Regions from separate parts of the Homo sapiens genome. Here region 2 is linked to region 1. The links come from fine-mapping of genetic effects on gene expression. Tissue or cell type: lung. Region 1 holds a variant in brackets; the other region holds the start of a gene. All regions are shown on one strand. Distances are between the middles of the regions.

Region 1 (8,337 bases):
GAAACAAGTAACACTTCCAAGATATAATGGGAATATAGGCACTGGATAAATACTCCTGTTTCCAAAGGGAAAAAAATTGGCTGAAAGAAAGGGGCCACAGGTCCCCCATTAAGTTTGCTTAAAAGTTTGCTTTTTTCTTGTAAATTAGTTTATGTTCTTTGTAGATTCTGGATATCAGCCCTTTGTCAGATAGATAGATTGTAAAAATTTTCTCCCATTCTGTAGGTTGCCTGTTCACTCTGATGGTAGTTTCTTTTGCTGTGCAGAAGCTCTTCAGTTTAATTAGATCCCATTTGTCAATTTTGGCTTTTGTTGCCATTGCTTTTGGTGTTTTAGTCATGAAGTCCTTGGCCATGCCTATGTCCTGAATGGTATTGCCTAGGTTTTCTTCTAGGGTTTTTATGGTTTTAGGTCTAACATTTAAGTCTTTAATTCATTTTGAATTAATTTTCGTATAATGTGTAAGGAAGGGATCCAGTTTCAGCCTTCTACATATGGCTAGCCAGTTTTCCCAGCACCATTTATTAAACAGGGAATCCTTTCCCCATTTCTTGTTTTTGTCAGGTTTGTCAAACATCAGACAGTCATAGATGTATGGTATTATTTCTGAGGGCTCTGTTCTGTTCTATTGGTCTATATCTCTGTTTTGGTACCGGTACCATGCTGTTTTGGCTACTGTAGCCTTGTAGTATAGTTTGAAGTCAGATCGCGTGATGCCTCCAGCTTTGTTCTTTTTGCTTAGGATTGGCAATGAGGTCTCTTTTTTGGTTCCATATGAATTTTAAAGTAGTTTTTTCCAATTCTGTGAAGAAAGTCATTGGTAGCTTGATGGGGATGGCATTGAATCTATAAATTACCTTGGGCAGTATGGCCATTTTCATGATATTGATTCTTCCCATCCATGAGCATGGAATGTTCTTCCGTTTGTTTATGTCCTCTTTTATTTCGTTGAGCAGTGGTTTGTAGTTCTCCTTAAAGAGGTCCTTCACATCCCTTGTAAGTTGGATTCCTAGGTATTTTATTGTCTTTGAAGCAATTGTGATGGGAGTTCCCTCATGATTTGGCTCTCTGTTTGTCTGTAATTGGTGTATAAGAATGCTTGTGATTTTTGCACGTGGATTTTGTATCCTGAGGCTTTGCTGAAGTTGCTTATCAGCTTAAGGAGATTTTGAGCTGAGACAATGGGGTTTTCTAAATATACAATCATGTCATCTACAAACAGGGACAATTTGACTTCCTCTTTTCCTGATTGAATACCCTTTATTTCTTTCTCTTGCCTGATTGCCCTGGCCAGAACTTCCAACACTATGTTGAATAGGAGTAGTGAGAGAGGGCATGCCTCTCTTGTGCCACTTTTCAAAGGGAATGCTTCCAGTTTTTGTCCATTCAGTATGATATTGGCTGTGGGTTTGTCATAGATAGCTCTTATTATTTTGAGATACGTCCCATCCATACCTAATTTATTGAGAGTTTTTAGCATGAAGGGTTGTCAAAGGCCTTTTCTGCATCTATTGAGATAATCATGTGGTTTTTGTCTTTGGTTCTGTTTATATGCTGGATTACGTTTATTGATTTTCGTATGTTGAACCAGCCTTGCATCCCAGGGATGAAGCCCACTTGATCATGGTGGATAAGCTTTTTGATGTGCTGCTGGATTTTGTTTGCCAGTATTTTATTGAGGATTTTTGCATCGATGTTCATCAATGATATTGGTCTAAAATTCTCTTTTTTTTGTTGTGTCTCTGCCAGGCTTTGGTATCAGGATGATGCTGGCCTCATAAAATGAGTTAGGGAGGATTTCTTCTTTTTCTATTGATTGGAACAGTTTCAGAAGGAATGGTCCCAGCTCCTCCTTGTACCTCTGGTAGAATTCGGCTGTGAATCCATCTGGTCCTGGACTTTTTTTGGTTGGTAAGCTACTAATTATTGCCTCATTTTCAGAGCCTGTTATTGGTCTATTCAGAGATTCAACTTCTTCCTGGTTTTGTCTTGGGAGGGTGTATGTGTTGAGGAATTTATCCATTTCTTCTAGATTTTCTAGTTTATTTGCATAGACATGTTTATAGTATTCTCTGATGGTAGTTTGTATTTCTGTGGGATCGGTGGTGATATCCCCTTTATCATTTTTTATTGCATCTATTTGATTCTTCTGTCTTTTCTTCTTTATTAGTCTTGCTAGCGGTCTATCAATTTTGTTGATTTTTTCACAAAACCAGCTCCTGTATTCATTGATTTTTTGAAGGGTTTGTTGTGTCTCTATTTCCTTCAGTTCTGCTCTGATCTTAGTTATTTCTTGCCTTCTGCTAGCTTTTGAATGTGTTTGCTCTTGCTTCTCTAGTTCTTTTAATTGTGATGTTAGGGTGTCAATTTTAGATCTTTCCTGCTTTCTCTTGTGGGTATTTAGTGCTATAAATGTCCCTCTATACACTGCTTTGAATGTGTCCCAGAGATTCTGGTATGTTGTGTCTTTGTTCTCATTGGTTTCAAAGAACTTCTTTATTTCTGCCTTCATTTCGTTATGTACCCAGTAGTCATTCAGGAGCAGGTTGTTCAGTTTCCATGTAGTTGAGTGGTTTTGAGTGAGTTTCTTAATCCTGAGTTCTAGTTTGATTGCACTGTGATCTGAGAGACAGTTTGTTATAATTTCTGTTCTTTTACATTTTCTGAGGAGTGCTTTACTTCCAAGTATGTGGTCAATTTTGGAATAGGTGTGGTGTGGTGCTGAAAAGAATGCATATTCTGTTGATTTGGGGTGGAGAGTTCTGTAGATGTCCATTAGGTCCTCTTGGTGCAGAGCTGAGTTCAATTCCTGGATATCCTTGTTAACTTTCTGTCTCATTGATCTGTCTAATGTTGACAGTGGGGTGTTAAAGTCTCTCATTATTATTGTGTGGGAGTCTAAGTCTCTTTGTAGGTTACTAAGGACTTGCTTTATGAATCTGCATGCTCCTGTATTGGGTGCATATATATTTAGGATAGTTAGCTCTTCTTGTTGAATTGATCCCTTTACCATTATGTAATGGCCTTTGTCTCTTTTGCTCTTTGTTGGTTTAAAGTCTGGTTTATCAGAGACTCGGATTGCAATCCCTGCTTTTTTTTTGTTTTCCATTTGCTTGGTAGATCTTCCTCCATCCCTTTATTTTGAGCCTATGTGTGTCTCTGCACGTGTGATGGGTTTCCCGAATACAGCACACTGATGGGTCTTGACTCTTGATCCAATTTGCCAGTATTTGTCTTTTAATTGGAGCATTTAGCCCATTTACATTTAAGGTTAATATTGTTATGTGTGAATTTGATCCTGTCATTATGATGTTAGCTGGTTATTTTGCTCGTTAGTTGATGCAGTTTCTTCCTAGCCTTGATGGTCTTTACAATTTGGCATGTTTTTGCAGTGGCTGGCATCAGTTGTTCCTTTCCATGTTTAGTGCTTCCTTCAGGAGCTCTTTTAGGGCAGGCCTGGTGGTGACAAAATCTCTCAGCATTTTCTTGTCTTTAAAGTATTTTATTTCTCCTTCACTTATGAAGCTCAGTTTGGCTGGATATGAAATTCTGGGTTGAAAATTCTTTTCTTTAAGAATGTTGAATATTGGCCCCCCACTCTCTTCTGGTTTGTAGAGTTTCTGCCGAGAGATCAGCTGTTAGTGTGATGGGCTTCCCTTTGTGGGTAATCCGACCTTTCTCTCTGGCTGCCCTTAACATTTTTTCCTTCATTTCAACTTTGGTGAATCTGACGATTATGTGTCTTGGAGTTGCTCTTCTCTAGGAGTATCTTTGTGGTGTTCTCTGTATTTCCTGAATTTGAATGTTGGCCTGCCTTGCTAGTTTGGGGAAATTCTCCTGGATAATATCCTGCAGAGTGTTTTCCAACTTGGTTCCATTCTCCCCTTCACTTTCAGGTACACGAATCAGACATAGATTTGGTCTTTTCACATAGTCCCATATTTCTTGGAGGTTTTGTTTGTTTCTTTTTATTCTTTTTTCTCTAAACTTCTCTTCTCACTTCATTTCATTCGTTTCATCTTCCATCACTGATAGCCTTTCTTCCAGTTGATCGCATCGGCTACTGAGGCTTGTCCATTCATCACGTAGTTCTCGTGCCATGGTTTTCAGCTCTATCAGGTCCTTTAAGGACTTCTCTGCATTGGTTATTCTAGTTAGCCATTCATCTAATCTTTTTTCAAGGTTTTTAACTTCTTTTCCATGGGTTCAAACTTTCTCCTTTAGCTCGGAGTAGTTTGATCTTCTGAAGCCTTCTTCTCTCAACTCGTCAAAGTCATTCTCTATCCAGCTTTGTTCCGTTGCTGGTGAGGAGCTGCATTCCTTTGGAGGAGGAGAGGCACTCTGATTTTTAGAGTTTCCAGTTTTTCTGCTCGTTTTTCCCCATCTTTGTGGTTTATCTACCTTTGGTCTTTGATGACGGTGACGTACAGATGGGTTTTTGGTGTGGATGTCCTTTCTGTTTGTT[A/T]GTTTTCCTTCTAACAGTCAGCACCCTTAGCTGCAGGTCTGTTGGAATTTGCTGGAGGTCCACTCCAGACCCTGTTTGCCTGGATATCAGCAGCAGAGCCTGCAGAACAGCAAATATTGCTCAACAGCAAATGTTGCTGCCTGATCGTTCCTCTGGAATCTTCATCTCAGAGGGGTACCAGGCTGTGTGGGGTGTCAGTCTGCCCCTACTGGAGGGTGCCTCCCAGTTAGGCTACTCAGCGGTCAGGGACCTACTTGAGGAGGCAGTCTGTCCGTTCTCAGATCTCCAGCTGCGTGCTGGGAGAACTGCTACTCTCTTCAAAGCTGTCAGACAGGGACATTTAAGTCTGCAGTGGTTTCTGTTGCCTTTTGTTCAGCTATGCCCTGCCCCCAGATGTGGAGACTACAGAGGCAGGCAGGCCTCCTTGAGCTGCGGTGGGCTCCACCCAGTTTGAGCTTCCTGGCTGCTTTGTTTACCTACTCAAGCCTCAGCAATGGTGGATGCCCCTCCCCTAGCCTCGCTGCCACCTTGCAGTTTGATCTCAGACTGCTGCACTAGCAGTGAGCAACGCTCCATGGGTGTGAGACCCTCGGTGCCAGGCGTGGGATATAATCTCCTTGTGTGCCGTTTGCTAAGACCATTGGAAAAGCACAGTATTAGGGTGGGAGTGTCCTGAGTTTCCAGGTGCCATCTGTCACCCCTTTCTTTGACTAGGAAAGGGAATTTCCTGACCCCTTGCACTTCCCGGGTGAGGTGATGCCTCACCCTGCTTCAGCTCACACTCCGTGGGCTGCACCCACTGTCCGACAAGCCCCAGTGAGATGAACCCAGCATCTCAGTTGGAAATGCAGAAATCACCCGTCTTCTGTGTCACTCATGCTGGGAGCTGTAGACTGGAGCTGTTCCTATTCGGCCATCTTGGAACCAGAAAAGTCTTTTGATAAAATTTAACACCACTTCATGTTAAAAATTCTCAAAAAAGTAGCTATTGAAGGAACATATCTGAAAAGAATAAGAGCCATCTATTCTTAGCCCATGGCTAAGATTATACTGAATGGGCAAAAACTGGCAGCATTGCCTTGAAAACTGACACAAGACAAGGATGCACTCTTTCACCACTGATATTCAACATAGTATTGGAAGTCCTGGCCAGGGCAATCAGGCAAGAGAAAGAAATAAAGGTCATCCAAATAGGAAGAGGGAAAGTCAAACTATTCCTGTTGGCAGACAACATGATTCTATATCTAGAAAACTTCGTAGTTTCAGCTCAAAAGTTTCTTAAACTGATAAACAACTTCAGCAAAGTCTCAGGATATAAAATCAATTTGCAAAAATCACCAATATTCCTATATATCAACAACAGTCAAGCCAAGAGCCAAATCAGGAACACAATCCCGTTCAAAATTGCCACAAAAAGATTAAAATAACTAGGAATACAGCTAACAAGGGAGGTGAAGATCTCTACAAGGAGAACTACAAAACAGTGCTCAAAGAAATCAGAGATTACACAAAGGGAAAAATATTTCATGCTTATGGAAAAGAAGGGTAAATATTGTAAAAATGGCCATACTGCTCAAAGCATTTATAGATTCAGTGGTATTCCTATTAAACTACCATTGAGATTCTTGACAGAATTAGGGAAAAAAAAACTATTTTAAAATTCACATGGAACCAAAAAAACTGCCTAAATAGCCAAGGCAATCCTAAGGAAAACAAAAACAAAAACAACAACAACAACAACAGAAAAACCCAGAAAACAAAAATCAAAGCTGGAGGCATCATGCCACCCGACTTCAAACTATACTACAGGGCTATAGGACCAAAACAACTGGTACTGGTACAAAAACAGTTGCATAGACCAATGGAACAGAATAGAGAACCCAGAAGTAAGGTCACCCAACTACAGCCATCTGATCTTTGGCAAACCAGACAAAAACAAGCAATGGAGAAAGAATTCCCTATTCAATAAATGGTGCTATGATAACTAGCTAGCCATATGCACAAGATTGAAACTAGACCTCTTTCTTACACTATATACTATATATATATATATATATATATATATATATATTATATATATATACATATATATATATATTTATATATTTATATTTATAGAAAAATTAACTCAAGATGGATTAAAGACCGAAATGTAAAACCCAAAACTATCAAAACCCTGGAAGGCAATCTAGGCAATAACATTCAGGACATAGGAACAGGCAAAGATTTCATGATGAAGATGCCAAAAGCAATTGCAACAAAAGCAAAAATTGATAAATGGGATCTAATAAAATTAAAGAGCTTCTGTACAGCGAAGGAAAGTATCAACAGAGTGAACAGATAACCTACATAATTGAAGAAAGTTTTGTAATGCATGGATATGACAAAGGTCCAATATCCAGCATCTATAAGGAACTTAAGCAAATTAACAAGCAAAAAAACAAACAACCCCATTAAAAAGTGGGCAAAGGACATGAAAAGATACTTTTCAAAAGAAGACATACAATCATATGAAAAAAACCTCAACGTCATTGATCATTAGAGAAATGCAAATCAAAACAACAATGAGATATCATCTGACACTAGTCAGAATGTTTATTATTAAAAAGTCAAAAAATAACAGATGCTGGCGAAGTTTTGGAGAAAAAGGAACACTTATACACTGTTGTTGGGAATGTAAATTAGTTCAACCATTGTAGAAAGCAGCGTGATGATGCCTCAAAGTACTAAAGACAGAAATACCATTTGACCAAGAAATTCCATTACTGGGTACATGCCCAAATGAATATAAATTATTCTATTATAAAGACACATGCATGTGTATGTTTATTGCAGTATTATTCACAATAGTGAAGACATGGAATCAACCTAAATGCCCATAAGTGATAGACTGGATAAAGAAAATGTGGTACATATACACGGTGGTACATGGACTACTACACAGTCATAAAAAATAATAAGATTATGTCCTTTGCAGGAGCATGAATGGAGCTGGAGGCCATCATCCTTAGCAAACTAACACAGGAACAGAAAACCAAATACTGCATGTTCTCACTCATAAGTGTGAGCTAAATGATGGGAACACAAGGACACATAGAGGGGAACAATACACACTGGAGCCTTTTGGAGGGTGAGGGTTGGATCAGGATAAATAACTAATGGGTACTAGGCTTAATACCTGCGTGATGAAATAATCTGCACAACAAACCTCCATGACACAAGTTTACCTATATTAACAAACCTGCACATGTACCCCTGAACTGAAAATAAACATTAAAAAAAGGGTGAAGAAAACCAAATTACAAACAAAAATCGATTTATTCTTTTAGTTTTACCTATGTAATTATCCTTACAGGTGCTCATTTTTTTCTGCATGTGGATTTGAGTCACCATCTGGATTCCTTTAATTTCACCCTGAAGAACCCCCTTTAGTATTTTTTGTAGGGTAGGTCTGAGGTTCTTATACTGGTTTCTCATTTACTTCCTTTAGAAAGGAGACCATGTAATCATATAAATAGTTATGAAAATTGTTACGAAAGAATGATAAATTATAAAACAATAATTATATTTCACATTCTTTTGGAAATACAGTAGGTCTTTTATTACAAATATATTTCACATTCTTTGGACATACTGTAGTTCCTTTATTTTGAACCAGTTTTAAAGATTCTCTTGTTTTTAAAACTTTAAAAAACGTGTTTTTCTGTTAGAGTGATGGAAAAACTTCTTGAATGTAGCAATACAAATAATTAAATTATAAAAAGCACTTTAGTCTCAAATTATGAAATAAATTCTTTGTGAAATCAAATCTGGATCTGTAAACAATGGTGTTTGTTTAAAAAAAACTGAACAAGTAATGGAAAGTTTGGATA
Region 2 (8,337 bases), 150 kb after region 1:
ACACATTATGAAATAAGATCCTAACATATATTATAATCCAGGAAGGCTTACGGGAAAAAGGGAAACACTGAAGTTTATTATAAAATAACATGTTTTAAAAACTATTAAAACTTGAAAACTAACATAGGTCAAGAATGCATATGCATAGCTATAGCAAATCTCTGTTTTGAACAATTTGGGTATTGTTGATTTATAAACCTCTTGTAATAGAACCAGCAAAAGTCTAGTGTACCAAACTTAATTCAGACACACTTTCCAAATGAGTAGGGGTTTGTTGGAGATTGGAAGCACATAAAACAGAAAGGAATGTATATAGTTAACATGGCAGATTGCTTCCTAAAGAATGATTTCTTTAAAAAAATTTTTATATAACTTCTCTTAAGGGCTATAACTCCCCTTGGTCCCATCCCCCTTCCCCTTCTCCTCACCATTTAGTCAAGAACAAAATTTTCATTCCACATGTCTCTGGAAGAGTTGAGTATTGCAGGGGTCTCTAGATCATCAGTATATTCATAGTACGTATTGCACCAAGGGAGACTTAATGGCAAATATTTCTAAACTTTTCTCTGAATTTCCTGGTTCTTTAGGGCTCCTGATAAAACCTTTAAGGTGACCTGAATATAGCTATTTTGAAACTTAATTCAGTTGCAACACAGGAGCTTAAAGACATTGCTTTGAATAAAATCCTGGAATATCTGTTCCCTGAATCTCAGGCTCCTGCTGCATATGGTAAGAATAAAAAGAGAGTTGCAGCTGAAAACCTGCAGCAAGACAGTTCTCACTCATCTGGGAATAGAAGGAGTTGGACAAATGCTCCCTCAAAAGGCATGAACATTTGGACAGAGCTGGGGACTGAAAGAGAATGATGTTCTCTAGTTTCACCCATTAGTGAACCAACTAACAAATACAATGGTGTTGTTGTTATTCTTTTGCCATAAGCAACAGGACTCTGTGTGTGGGCAGCAGTTTAGTGGGGAGGAGGATAAGTCGACCCCTTTTTGTCCTATTGATTTTTTCCTATTTGCATGACTTGAGCAAATTAAATGATGCAATATGGCTTTTTGTTACAAAACAAAGTGAGAGATACCACCCAGACACATATGTTGATTCGTAGGAGCTGTTTACATGAGAATAGAGTGAAATCTACCGTGAACTGAGCATAAAAATTAGATTCAGCCTGGGTATTTTTTTTTTTTATTATGCCTGGGCCAGCAAGACTGAAGCACAAGTTTTCCAAGAGTCTCTCAGACCTTGACAACTGGCAGTGTTCTAACAGAGGAATTCTTAATTAAACCTAAAATGGGGAAAGGGAGGGGGAGCAAAGACACCTGATTGTTTATTTCACGTGCAGTGATTGTTAATGATGTGAGCCAGCAATGATTCCTTGGAGTACAGTAGATACCACCCATGACTGCATCTCCTGGCAAGAACGATATTGCAAACTCAAAAACAAGCGTGCCTTTACAGTCAACAAACACCATGTTAGTATTTAAACTTATTAACACAAGGATAACGTAAATGCCATTACTCTTAAAACAAATTCTTAGAGTAGATCTTCCAAGACACCAACTGACCCTGAAAGTCTGAATTTATAATGTTACAAAATGACGGAGAATCGTCTCAGTTTTATGTGATAAATAACGCCCCAGCAAAATCTTTCGCCAGTTTTTTTCAGGTCCCTAACCGGAGGACCAGGAGTTCCTTTCTGTTGGTTTAACTAATGTAATGCAAGACACCCCCCTCTGACGGGGCTGGGGATCATAAACCAACCATGCTTCAACATCCTTTACGATTCAATCCTCTCCCTAACCGAGCACGTGGAGAAAACAGCACAAATCTTTTTACCCTAGAAAAATAAGCCGGAAACCACAGCCACCTTAATTTACAGTTTCACCGCAGCCAATGCCCCATTCGATCCAAAACACACTGTTCATCGCGATTCTTTTAAAATATTTACCCAGCCCAGGGTGCGGGTACCGCAGAAACGTCTGTTTTCAGAGATAGGCAAGTTTGCACAGCATCCCGACCGCGGACTCTGGGGGAGGAAATGCTACTTGCTTACCCCAGAGGAACACACAACGGAATCACGTTAGCGCTATAGAAAAGTTATGGAAAGAACTCCCCCAAAGAAGTTTTGACCTTCTTACAACCACCGGCTTTGCCAGAGCCACAGGGAACCCCACCCAGCCAATATGCCAAGTACGCATCCGTGAAGCCGGTGAGTGCCTACCTTATTCTCCAGGCGCCCTAGCCCCGGGCTGTCACTCCGCAGGCAGCAGGACAGCCGAGGGTAGAAGCCACCGCACAGCATCTCTCCCCCACTCAGCAGCTCCAGCTGGGACATCATCCTCCTGTCTCTCCTTTTCAGGCGCTTCGGGGGGTTCCCATTCAGGCACCTTCTCCTCCTTGCTCCGCTCCCTTCGTTTCTTTCCCCAAACTTAGCATCTCCTTCAAAGAAGCCCAGAGCCACGGCCAGCAGCAGCAGCTTAAAGGAGAGCATCTTCAGCATCGTCTGCCCAGAGCAGCAGGGGCTGGGCGCGGGAGGATGGGGGGGAACGCCACTGCCCAGCAGGGGCACTAGGGCGCAGCTCCAGGAGGAGTTTGCGGGGCTGTAGGGCACTCCAGAGACAGAGGGAGGTGGCGGGGACAAAAATATGTACAGCGATGCAACTTTGCAAAAAATAAAAGACGCGGCGATGGGTCCAATGCCTTAGGGGAGCCCGAGGAGCGAGATAAAGTTGTGCGGATGACACCGTTTGCAGTTGTGCCAGTGTCAGTTGGGTTGGGGGCTTTCTGCTGCGGCTGGGAAGTGGGAGGAGGAGAAGGAGTTGGAAGAGGAGGAAGAAAAGGAGAGGACAGCCACAGATGTTCACTTGTCCGTGTAACGGGAGTTGTTTAGGTGGGACAGTAGCAGGAACAGAAACGGCGACGGCGGCGGCGGGGCAGGCGGAGGCAGGGCCAGCGCTGGGCTCTAGATGATGCTGAGGTCTCCTCTGCCGGCGGCTGCAGCTTCTCACACAGCCTCTCATGTTTCGTTCCCTCTTTTCTTCTTCTTTTTAACTAGCGCGCGGGGAGGTGCTGCCACAGCGCGCCCCTTGACGTCACCGCTTCTCGCGCGCCCCCGCCCAGGGTGGAGGGAAGGGGAGGGGGCGGCCCCCGCGCGAGCGCGTCCCCCGGGCCCCGGCGGCCTCCCTGCTGCGGCGGGGAGGGGCGGCTAGCCGCGACGGCGGCGGACGGAGGGGGAGGGCCGCGAGCCTTCGGAACCAGCCTCGAGGGTGCTGAACCCCGCGCGCCCGCCTCGCCGCGGCCCCCGGGTGGGGGCGTCCACGGCCCGGGTTCCCGGCGGGCTTGGGGCAGGGACGCAGTCCGGAGATTCCGGGACTGCCCGGCTGCTGCAGCCCGCAGGCTCCTCTCTCCTCCCCGCTTCCCCTCCGCACTGCCTGGGCTAAAGGCGGCCAAGCTGAGGCTCCGAAAGAAAGTAAGTAAGAGTGGGCCGTAGGAGGTGGGAAGGGAGGGACCCCTTCCAGGGCCATCCCCACCTCAGCCCCCCGGCCCGCCCCTCGCCCCGTGGGAGGGTGAACTAAGTGGGCTGGAGCGGACGGGAGGGAGCTTTTGGGCCCCTTTGTCTCCCCCAGCCGCACTGACACCCCCATTTTCCACACTGATTTTCAACGTGAAGCTCAAGTCCTCAAAGATCTTTCTTGGGGTCTGACTTAGAGGCAGGGGGACATCCCAGATGCCGTTGAGTAGGCTGAGATGGTTTGGAGACTCATCCTCGCCGGAGGTCCTGCAAGCCACTGAAGTGGCACAGACGCGTGTGCGCGGAGTGGGGCGGTGTGTCGGGCCACAGGCCAAGCCCAAGTCGGCCTCCCAGAGTGTTTGCCACGGTTTGGGCGGGTTAGTCCCCGACGCCCCTTTCAGGTCCCCACATGTGTTCGGGAATAAGCCGGGCCCCGCTGGTACCATCTGGGAACACAAGTTCTTGGGCCGCAGGTGGACGGAGAGAGAAGCTGGGCGCGGAATTAGTGTTCGTTTTAACACACACAAACACACACACACACACACACACACACACACCTGCACGCACGCGCGCGCAGTCCCTGGGGAGAGGTTCCCCTGGGTGTAGAAACAGAGGCGTTAGATCTGGAGAAAGAATTAGATGCAAGTCTGAGGGCATCCAGAAGCGCTGTGCTCTACTTATCCCCGTGTATACAAGTAAATTAACCTTTTCCCCAGCTAGACAAAGTCTGTGTAAATAGTGTGTCTAAAAAGATGTCTACGTTATCAGGAGCGGTGACTTGAGGTTTACTGGATCCCTGCAAGTTGGCATCAGGACGAGCTTCTATAGGGTTGCCCACAAAATGCGCTTCTAGCCCACTTGGGTATTTAACAGAGAAGCTGATTTCCCAGAAGATGGGCTTTGATGAGGAGATAAGGCAGTTGTCCCATTTTGGCAATGGAGGAATGTTCACCACATTTGGGTTTGCTTCACTTGTTGGACATTGATTTCGCCAAGTGATTGCAAAAGTTGGTGATGGTTGAGGTGGGCAGTTGATTAAATTAATCACTTCTGGTCACAGTGGCTAGGTAAGGCTTCTGTCTTTTTCACTTCCTGAGCCTGGATATTAGTGAAGTTAGGTTTTTCCCCAAAGAGATGACACATCAGAATAACTGAAAAGAATCTGCTAGGATGTTTGGCCCAGTCCTCAGCTAAATGTAGAGCCCCCATGACATATTTAACATTTTCCCCAGGGGCTGTTGTATACACATGACTTCTTCATGCATGTGATTGTAAGTCCACTTTGGATCTCACATACTTTTTTTTATCTGACATTCTTTCTGCTTTGAGGACTTTTAATATAAAATTAATCAGAAAGCAGTAAGCACTTTAAGACTTTAAACTCATTAATAGATCTCCAGATGAATCTCATCAAATTTAAATCACTTGCACAATTTCATCTCATTAGGTAGTTTGAGAATAAGGACTCGGATCCAATCTGGGGTGCTTTCCACTATCTAACCCTTTCTTCCCAAATTCCAGTTTTATATTCTTTTTCCAAAATAAAAGTCCTTCTAAAATCGTATTTCAGTAGTTTGAGCTCCTACTCTGATAAATTCCTGTTAGTAGTTTTGAAACAGGCCTTTCTTATGGCTTATACTAAGGCCACTTAAAGGTAAATTTATTTTGGTTTTAAAATACTATGCATCTGTTATAACCTACGACCCTAAGATATAGAAAGTTTATAAAAGATTACTGAAATAAGACATGCTTGTTATTTCTTGATATATGGAAATTAGAATTGATTTCATATACTGTTTGTCCTGAAAGTCAATAAATTGGGTCACTTAGGAGATAGCTTGAGCTTATTCTTAGTGTTACTGATATAATTTCTAAACAGTTACTAAGCAGTGTTATACAAATGGACTAACTTCTGATTTGTTTTTTCCAGAGGGAAAATTGCAACCCTTGCCTACAACCAGACTGACAGCATAATTTCTTAGGAATCAAGAATCAATACAGGGTTATTTCTTTAGATTAAACCTTAAAAGCCCCCTTGGAGGCTGAAGAAGCAGAGGATAGCCATGCATACACTTGAACGTGAAAAATGGTCCTCTTTCATTGGAGAGGTCTTCCTCTTCAGCTAAACCGACAGAGTGGTGAAAAGAAGAAGGGACCCCTTGTTGACCAAAATAATCCAGACAAATCAAATCGGCCCTTTCCAGCAAGGAGTGGAACAGCCCAAGGGTGGCTAGATCACATCTTCTGCTCACACCACCACTGAGCAACCCTCTCCAGGACTGCCACCTATGCATAGGTCATGCCCTGTGCAAGAGCACATAAAGTGGGAGCTGAAGTCCTGCCCAGGCTCCATTCACCAAGCAGAGCTTATGTTGTTGTGTGTCTGTGTCTACCCAGAGGATGTGGGTCCTTTTTAAAATGTGCACCAATGCATCTTGTATGAGCTGGCACCAGCTCGGACCATCCCACCCTCATACCCTGGTCCTATCCAGGGTTATATTCCCTACTTTAGAAGAATTAATTATTTTTATGAACGTATTTAGTTTATTGTAAAAAATGAAATATATGACACAAATTGAAATTAATTTCAGAGGTAAAGGTCAGAATATTACCATGTATGTGAATTATGTTTGTATGTATATGTATATATCAAGAGAGTTATATGAATATACATTTTTGTGTATCAGAAGTGAGGACAATTTAACTTTGTTAAGTGTTTGAAATAAAATTATTTTGAGTTTTGGAATCAGTTTTATGTATGGATTTCTGGCCTTCACAGAAATATGTACTATTTAATTCCATTTCAACAAATATATATTAAGTGTCAGGCACCGTGCTAAACAGTATGTATATAGTACTGAAAAATAATGCAAACACCCTGCTTCTAGGTAGTTAATAATCTAGTATAGAAGACAAATGATAAGGTCACAAATAAAATTACAGTTATAAATTGTGGTAAAAGGTATGAAAGAAATGCTAAGGTACAGAATAACAAAGCACACCTATTTCAGATTAAGTGACTGGAAAAAACTTCTCTGGGAAAATGACATTTCAGTTGAGACTTAGGATGACTTGGAAGGAGTACGAAGTGACTCCAACCACTGTTTAAAGTATAGGATCTTTTGAGTTCAGAATATAATTTGATACATTTGAGGAGAAGTGCAGAATAGATAACTCAGAATGGAAAGGCTAGAGGCCAAATTCGTAGATTTTTAGTTTATACACTCCAGGTAACTAATTAAGTTAGTGCCATGTATTTGTCATTTCCTTTTGTTTTTGCAAGTGCTCTTTCTTTCCTACCTTATACTTATCCATCTTTGTCTCTTTCTTTAAATTCTGGCTTAACAGCAACCTCTTCTAAGAATTATTCTAGTTTGAATGGCCTTTCAAGCATTGCACTTCATCTAAAAAGCATATAGATACATTTTATTTATTTTCTTTTGTGCATCATTGGTAAATACCTGAGATGTTTTTATATGTGCAAGTTGAATATTCATGAGATTATAATCTCCAGAAGGGCAGGAATTGCATTTCCTTCTTTGGAGACGCCAACATAGTTTAGTTTAGACTCATAGTAGAGCAACCGGCCTCTCAATAAATGCTGCTGAGTGGCTGATCTTGATTGAGTTGATAATTTTTAAAGGTTTAAAATGGAGCTCATATTTGCATTATAAAAACTTTAAATTGGGCCAGGCACAGTGGCTTGCCCCTGTAATCCCAGCAACTGGGGAGTCCAAGGTAGGAGGATTGATTGAGCCCCAGAGTTCGAGACCAACCTGGGCAACATAGTGAGACTCCATCTCTAAAAAAATTAGAAAAATTATCCGGGCATGGTGGAGCACACCTGTAGTCCCAACCACTTGGGAAGCTGAGGTGGGGGGATCACTTGAGCCCAGGAGATCAAGGCTGCATGCAGTGAGCTATGATTGCACTGCACTCCAGCCTGGGTGACAGAACAAGACCCTGTCTCAAAAAGTAAATTTTGAAATAGAAGAAAGCACACAATTTAAAGTGCACCATCACTAAGGAAGTGCAGCTGACCTTTCTACTAAAGTGTGATTCCACAGAGGAAGGACGGCCAGCAAAGCGAGGCAATAAATACACAGCCTTTAAAAATTAAAGATTGGTTATAATTCAGGTAAATGGACACAATGGTAGGGCTGCTTCTAGGATTTTTTCTACAGTTAGTCTTTCTTTCAAAAGTCAGCACCTACTGTGTGCCAGAGCCTGCTCTGGACCCTAGGAACACAGCAGTGAACAAAACTTTTTTCATGGAACTCATATTGTAATGGGGAAGACGGGTAACGATATAGAGTATACCAGATGGGGAGGAATGCTGCAGAGAAAAGGGAGCATGGGGAAAGATTGCAGGGGTTGGGAGAAATAATAATTTTGTATACATTGTCAGGAAAAGTGTTTACTGGGGCAATATTTGGGCAGATACAAGAAACAAGGGCAGAGAAATAGCCAGGGTCCACATTGCATGGGATCTTATAAGGTATGTTATGGATTTAGACTCTTAATTCGGAATGAGATGGTTTTCAATCAGGGGCCTTTGTCAGAAATAAACCATGCTAGCTATTTTCACAGTGCAAATTACATATGAGGAATTAGTTAAATAGGTGTCAGGGAACTGAAAAGGCAAAAGGGGAACACTACTGCAGGAAGCCACTCCCATCCCTAGGGATTGAGGACGAGGGAAGAGTTGGGGTTAATAGAACCTAGATGCTTGTTGGAGAGCCCTTGTAGAGCTGTGTAGATAGGGTTGCTGCCTAGCGGGTGTTGATAACCTGAGATGATGAAATGAAGCTGATGAT

The links. PIP is the estimated chance that this variant, and not a neighbour inherited with it, causes the effect.
Region 2: HHIP-AS1 starts here. The variant in region 1 is the best candidate, but not a certain one, in a credible set for the expression of HHIP-AS1 in lung (TOPMed, PIP 0.61).

What each region holds. Positions count from the first base shown.
Region 1 is chr4:144,788,669-144,797,005 of GRCh38, reverse strand. No RefSeq gene overlaps it. Among named protein-coding and RNA genes, the nearest start is that of HHIP, 150 kb to the right of the region's middle. The variant A/T (reference allele first, on the strand shown) is at 4,466.
Region 2 is chr4:144,640,848-144,649,184 of GRCh38, reverse strand. It overlaps HHIP-AS1 (HHIP antisense RNA 1), which reads left to right and starts at 3,166. Exons shown (of 2, transcript NR_037595.1): 1 at 3,166-3,478; 2 at 5,451-6,269. HHIP (hedgehog interacting protein) reads right to left here and starts at 3,029. Exons shown (of 13, transcript NM_022475.3): 1 at 2,231-3,029. The coding sequence starts at 2,509. RefSeq lists enhancers at 670-1,258, 2,499-3,064.